Linked DNA regions of Homo sapiens: region 1 is linked to region 2. The links come from fine-mapping of genetic effects on gene expression. A gene starts in region 2. The other region holds a variant in brackets. All regions are shown on one strand. Distances are between the middles of the regions. Region 1 has its middle 12 kb from the start of CDCA5. Region 2 holds the start of TM7SF2 (transmembrane 7 superfamily member 2).

Region 1 (2,899 bases), 40 kb before region 2:
CCCAAAGTGCTGGGATTTCAGGCATAAGCCACTGAACCCAGGCAGGTTGAGAATTTCTTCTCCAAAATGCCTATCTAGAAGTGTTTTGGATTTCAGATTTCTTAGGATTTTGGAATATTAGCATTATCTGAAAATCCAGAATCCAAAATGCTACAGTGAATGTCAGGGCAGTGCTCACAGTTTGGGATTTTGGATTTTCTTTTCTTTTTTTTTTTTTTTGAGACAGAGTCTCGCTCTGTTGCCCAGGCTGGAGTGCAGTGGTGCAATCTTGGCTCACTGCAAGCTCTGCCTCCCAGGTTCACGCCATTCTCCTGCCTCAGCCTCCCGAGTAGCTGGGACTACAGGTGCCCGCCACCACACCCGGCTAATTTTTTGTATTTTTTAGTAGAGACGGGGTTTCACCGTGTTAGCCAGGATGGTCTCGATCTCCTGACCTCATGATCTGCCCGCCTTGGCCTCCCAAAGTGCTGAGATTATAGGTGTGAGCCACCGTGCTCGGCCGGGATTTTGGATTTTCAACCCACATATGCATACCCCATATGTGGCATGGAACATACTTGTACTAGAAAACTATCTATTATTTCTCTGATTTGGGAAACAGTTATTCCTTTTTTTTTTTTTTCCTGGGGACAGTCTCGCTTTGTTGCCCAGGCTGGAGTGTAGTGGTGCGATCTCGGATCACTGCAACCTCTGCCTTCCATGTTCAGGCAATTCTCCTGCCTCAGCCTCCTGAGTAGCTAATTTTTGTATTTTTAGTAGAGACGGGGTTTCACCATGTTGGTCAGGCTGGTCTCGAACCCCTAACCTGGTGATCCGCCTGCCTCGGCCTCCCAAAGTGCTGGGATTGCAGGCAAGGGCACTCTTACTCTTTAAAAATTGTGTTGTTTATCTAAGATTCAGGCTTAAGTGGGCATCTTGTATTTTTTGCTAAATCTAGCAACTCTAACACTATGGCCACATGTTGGTGCCCATCAGAGGACACTGGGAGGCATGAAAAGCTCCACGGTTACCAGTTGGTACGTGAGGAGGATGAGCAGATAGACAGACAGACAGGACTGGGGTCCTCTCAGGGTCCCACCAGCCAAGCACAGACAGATGCTTAATTCAGACTTGGACAGAAGATAGCTCAGGACCTGGATTTCAGTCCTGCTCTGCTGCTCATAGGTGGGGCAGCTGCAGGAAATCGGGCTCAGCCTCCTAGCCTGTGAAATGGGTATTCAACTCCACAAATATTGACTGAGCCCTAACTTTGTTGAAGGCCCTTCCCTGAATGTTGAGAAGGTACAAAAATGAATCTCCTCCTTTGAGGGGTTAATCACAGGCTGGGTAAAATGCTACTAGCCATCAGTGATGAGGAACTCTGCTGGCTGCTTTGCATATGACATCAACCTCCTGACCAACTCCGTTAGAGAGATGGAATTGGCCTCACTTTTCAGAAGAGAAAACCATGGCTCAAGAAGAGTCTCAGATGTGGGTGGACTGAT[A/C]CCCAAGCAGGTGGCTGTCAGGGAGCCTGCCAACCTGTCAGCCACACTGTGGAGAGGGGAAGGCAGCCTGGTCTAGGCCCATGTGTTGGGAGAACCACCAGGCCTGAGCCAAAGCCTCATCTGAAAGGGTGGTGAGCTACCGGGCTGAGGACCCAGGCGAGGAGGGAGGGGTCCATAGGCTGTGTGGGGAACTGCCCTGTGGAGAGGGAGGGTGAAGTCCACTCTCCAAGAAATGGGGACAGGTGTGAGCCATGGGGCTGGCTTCAGACCTCACATGCACACTGGTGGGACTAGAATTTGTGCTGTGGGAGGCTCATGACTGAGGCAGGGTGCCAGGTGCCATCACTCCTGACTCCACCTGTGCCCCTCCTACCAGGCACTCAGAGGCTCTCTGAAGCCCCTGTCCCCAGCTCCCACTGGAGGGGCACACCTGCCCAGGCTGGTGGGAAACCACCACATCCACTTACTCCATGATGTGCCTGGACACTGGGGGGACAGAGACAAATACAACCTTGCCTCCAGCCTGAGCTGGAGTTTACACAGCTACTGTGTAAACGTGTGTGCAGAGCAGACAGAATGGAGCTTGAAGGTGCTATGATGGAGGTCTGTGTGGACTTCTGAGACTTAAAAAGGGAGGGAATGGTCAGTTCTACTTGAAAATTGTTCATTGAGCACTTACCATGCACCAAGTGCTTTACTTGTATTATTTCATTCTTTTTTTTTTTTTTTTTTTTTTTGAGATGGAGTTTCTCTCTTTCACCCAGGCTGGAGTGAAGTGGCATGATCTTGGCTCACTGCAACCTCCACCCGCCAGGGTTCAAGTGATTCTCCTGCCTCAGCCTCCCGAGTAGCTGGGATTACAGGTGCCCGCCACCATGCCCGGCTAATTTTTGTATTTTTAGTAGAGACGAGGTTTCACCATCTTGGCCAGGCTGGTCTTGAACTCCTGACCTCAAGTAATCCAACCACCTCAGCCTCCCAAAGTGCTGGGATTACAGGTGTGAGCCACCGCGCCCGGCCGACTATCTCATTTTTAAACACTGTGGCATAGGTATTATTATTGTCCTCATTTTACTGTTAAGGAAACTGAGGCACATCAGAGTCTAATTATTATCATTTGCCTGGGATCACACAGCTAGAAGCTGGCAGAGCCAGGATTCAAACCCAGTTGGATTGCAGAACCTGTGCTCTTTGCTTTCACCAGGGTGGGGCAGGTGGGGAGGAAAGGCTGAGCAGGGGTGACGCGTGAGCCAGACTTAATGACGCGGGGCTCCCCAGGTGACGCAGGAGTGGGGAAAGACACGAGAGGCAGAGAGCAAAGGTTCAGAGGCAGGGACCTCCAAGCAGCTCGCAGCCTGCGGTGGGTCTGTGGGCTGAAGCCTGGACACCAGCCTCGGCCTGGAGTCCTCATGAGC
Region 2 (2,874 bases):
CTTGTATCCTGCCTTTGCCCCACTCCACTGGTTCTATAAATAGCGACCATGTACCTACTAAATAGCGGGCCCCGCGGTGATTACCCTGTGATCCTTGTGATGCTTGAGTAGCTGACTTAGGGCATCCTCAGCACCGATGGGCTGGTGGTTTCCCCTGACTCGGGCCTCCTTGCAGTACCTCTTTTTACCACCAGGTGGGGCTCCTGTACGAAGAGGGTGTTCGCAAGGCCCAGAGCAGCGACTCCAGCAAGAGGACTTTCTCCGTGTACAGCAGCTCTCGGCAGCAGGGCCGCTACGCCCCCAGCTATACCCCCAGGTCTGGCTGGTCAGGGGAGCCCCAGGGGGAAGGGACAAAAGAGGGCGAGGGTGCAGGGCGGGCTCTGATTCCTTGTCTTCCCCAATCCAGTGCCCCGATGGACACCAACCTCTTGAGCAATATCCAGAAGCTATTCTCTGAACGTATTGATGTGTTCAGCCCTGTGGAGTTCAACAAGGTCCGACTTCCAACGTGACTCAGACTTCCAGGGATCCCGGGGAGGGTTGGCTGGAGCAGCCCCACACCTGCCCAAGGAGCCCCAGGACTCTGTGACCAACTGGGGGTGACCCTGACCCTCCAGTCTCTGTCTCTAGGGCTGTTTTTAGGTAGTACAGAGTGCCCTGCCTCCAAATCCCACAGCCCTTGTCCCAGTCTTGGTGTATGCCCAGCCTGAGTCTGGGTGCTGACCTGGGATTACTGTTTGCCCTTGTCCTTATCCCCACAGTAGTCTTGGGTCCTCCCCAGGGTTTTCTGTTCACCCATGGTCCCTGCCCCGCCTCACTCCAAGCTCAGGGATGCCTCTGATTGCTGGGCCCTACCTGTCCCCTGCCCTCCAGATGACGGCGCTAATATTGTATCCCTCCCTTCTTATCTGGCCCCGGAGACTTTCTGCCTCATCCCAGCTACTTCCATCGTATGTCTCCCGGGCCCCTGCTTGGAACTTGGGTGTCCCCCACACACACCTGCAGTCCCCAAGCTGCATCCCTGTGTCCCTGCCTGCAGGTGTCGGTGCTGACCGGCATCATCAAGATCAGCCTGAAGACGCTGCTGGAGTGTGTGCGGCTGCGCACCTTTGGGCGCTTCGGGCTGCAGCAGGTGCAAGTGGACTGCCACTTTCTGCAGCTCTACCTGTGGCGTTTTGTGGCCGACGAAGAACTCGTGCACTTGCTGCTGGACGAAGTGGTGGCCTCTGCTGCCCTGCGCTGCCCAGACCCTGTGCCCATGGAGCCCAGTGTGGTTGAGGTCATCTGCGAGCGCGGCTAGGCGCAGCCGCTGCCATGCACCGGTCTGTCCCTGCACCCCATGGCACCCAGGATCTGGTCTCGGTGGTCCTTCCCCGCAGGCAGGTGTCAGGACCGGCCTAATAAACATGTGTGGCCTCCTCCTCTCGCTTGCTGGGCGGGCCTTTCCGGGGGCGGGGTTTTGAAGCTGAGGCTTCTGAGGCGCCCGCGTCGGGTCCGCCCCCGAGCGCCGATTGGCTGGTGTGCTGGGCCCAGCATGGGCAGGGGGCGGTTCCACTTAAAAACCCTGGGACGAGAGCGGTCCTTGTCTGCGTTCCGTGTCCAGGCAGGTGCAGGCGCCGCGGGGCCGGATCCTCCGCGCGGCCGAGTCCATCTCCTGGGAAATGGGGCGGACAGTGTTTCCTTGACTGACTATTGTGAGCGCCCTCTCTCTCCGGCGGAGCGGAGACCATGGCCCCCACTCAGGGCCCCCGGGCCCCGCTGGAATTCGGAGGGCCCCTGGGTAATGGGGCAGAGAGATGGGACCTGGGGCAAAGGCTAAGCGAAGGAGAGCTGGAGCGGGTGAACTAAGAGCGGGGGCGAGATCTGAGGATGGAAGGCTTTGGGGGTGTCGGAGGCAGAGGGACCCGGGGGTTTGCAGCGAAGGGTGTCTGGAGAGGGAGAGCTGAGGAGGGGCCGGTTCTGGGGGCTGCAGAACGGGGATTTATGGTGTCGACTGGGAGCAGGAGGAGGGTCTTCGAGGGGCCTGGGGGCGGGGGACTAAGATGGACGCCTGGGAAGGGAACTGGGAGGCAGCGGGGTGCCTGGGGGCCGAGGGCTGAGGACGGGGTGCGGAGGCGCACTCTGGGAATGCCGAGAGGGTCCCGCAGAGACGTCAGGGCGCCCGTGCGGGCCGGCGGGGAGCTGGGGGGCTAGGGGCGGACGCCCGACGTGATGGCCCTTCCCGCAGGCGCCGCGGCTCTGCTACTGCTGCTGCCCGCCACCATGTTCCACCTGCTCCTGGCGGCCCGTTCGGGCCCCGCGCGCCTGCTGGGTCCACCCGCGTCCCTGCCGGGGCTGGAGGTGCTGTGGAGCCCACGGGCGCTGCTGCTGTGGCTCGCCTGGCTCGGCCTGCAGGCGGCGCTCTACCTACTGCCGGCGCGCAAGGTGCGGGCCCCGCTCGCGGACGCTCGGGGGAGGGAAGCGAATGGGCTCGGCGAGGGAAAGGACGCCCCGGGCCTTATCAGAGCCCCCTTGGACCCGCAGGTGGCCGAGGGGCAGGAATTGAAGGACAAGAGTCGCCTGCGCTATCCTATTAACGGTGCCTAGGGGACGGGCCCTCGCGCTGGAGTTAAGCGGCCGGGGGTGGAGCTCCAGGCCTAGCGGGGAGGTCCACGGAGATTGGCCCCCACCCCAGGCTCCTTTGTGTGCCTCTGTTACGCCCAGGACAGACGCCGGGGGCTCTCCCTATGCCCCTCGTCCCCACAGCCTTACCCCATTTACTGCTACTCCGTGCACCACAGCAGTGGCTGGGGTGATCCTCTGAAGGCCAGGGTGGCAGCCTAATGCTTGGGGCAGGGTCTGTGGCCCCCCTGAGTTTTGGGCTCTGCGTGTGTT

What was found.
Region 1: its variant is fine-mapped to the expression of TM7SF2 in whole blood (INTERVAL, PIP 0.93).

The regions. Positions count from the first base shown.
Region 1 is chr11:65,070,741-65,073,639 of GRCh38, forward strand. It overlaps a transcript of CDCA5 not described here. Among named protein-coding and RNA genes, the nearest start is that of CDCA5, 12 kb to the right of the region's middle. The variant A/C (reference allele first, on the strand shown) is at 1,485.
Region 2 is chr11:65,110,288-65,113,161 of GRCh38, forward strand. TM7SF2 (transmembrane 7 superfamily member 2) reads left to right here and starts at 1,585. Exons shown (of 10, transcript NM_003273.6): 1 at 1,585-1,780; 2 at 2,228-2,424; 3 at 2,524-2,578. The coding sequence starts at 1,729. VPS51 (VPS51 subunit of GARP complex) reads left to right here. Exons shown (of 10, transcript NM_013265.4): 8 at 195-316; 9 at 407-494; 10 at 1,040-1,575. The coding sequence ends at 1,300. RefSeq lists enhancers at 1-767, 768-1,693, 1,390-1,684, 1,607-1,716, 1,787-1,836 and silencers at 526-701, 1,967-2,396.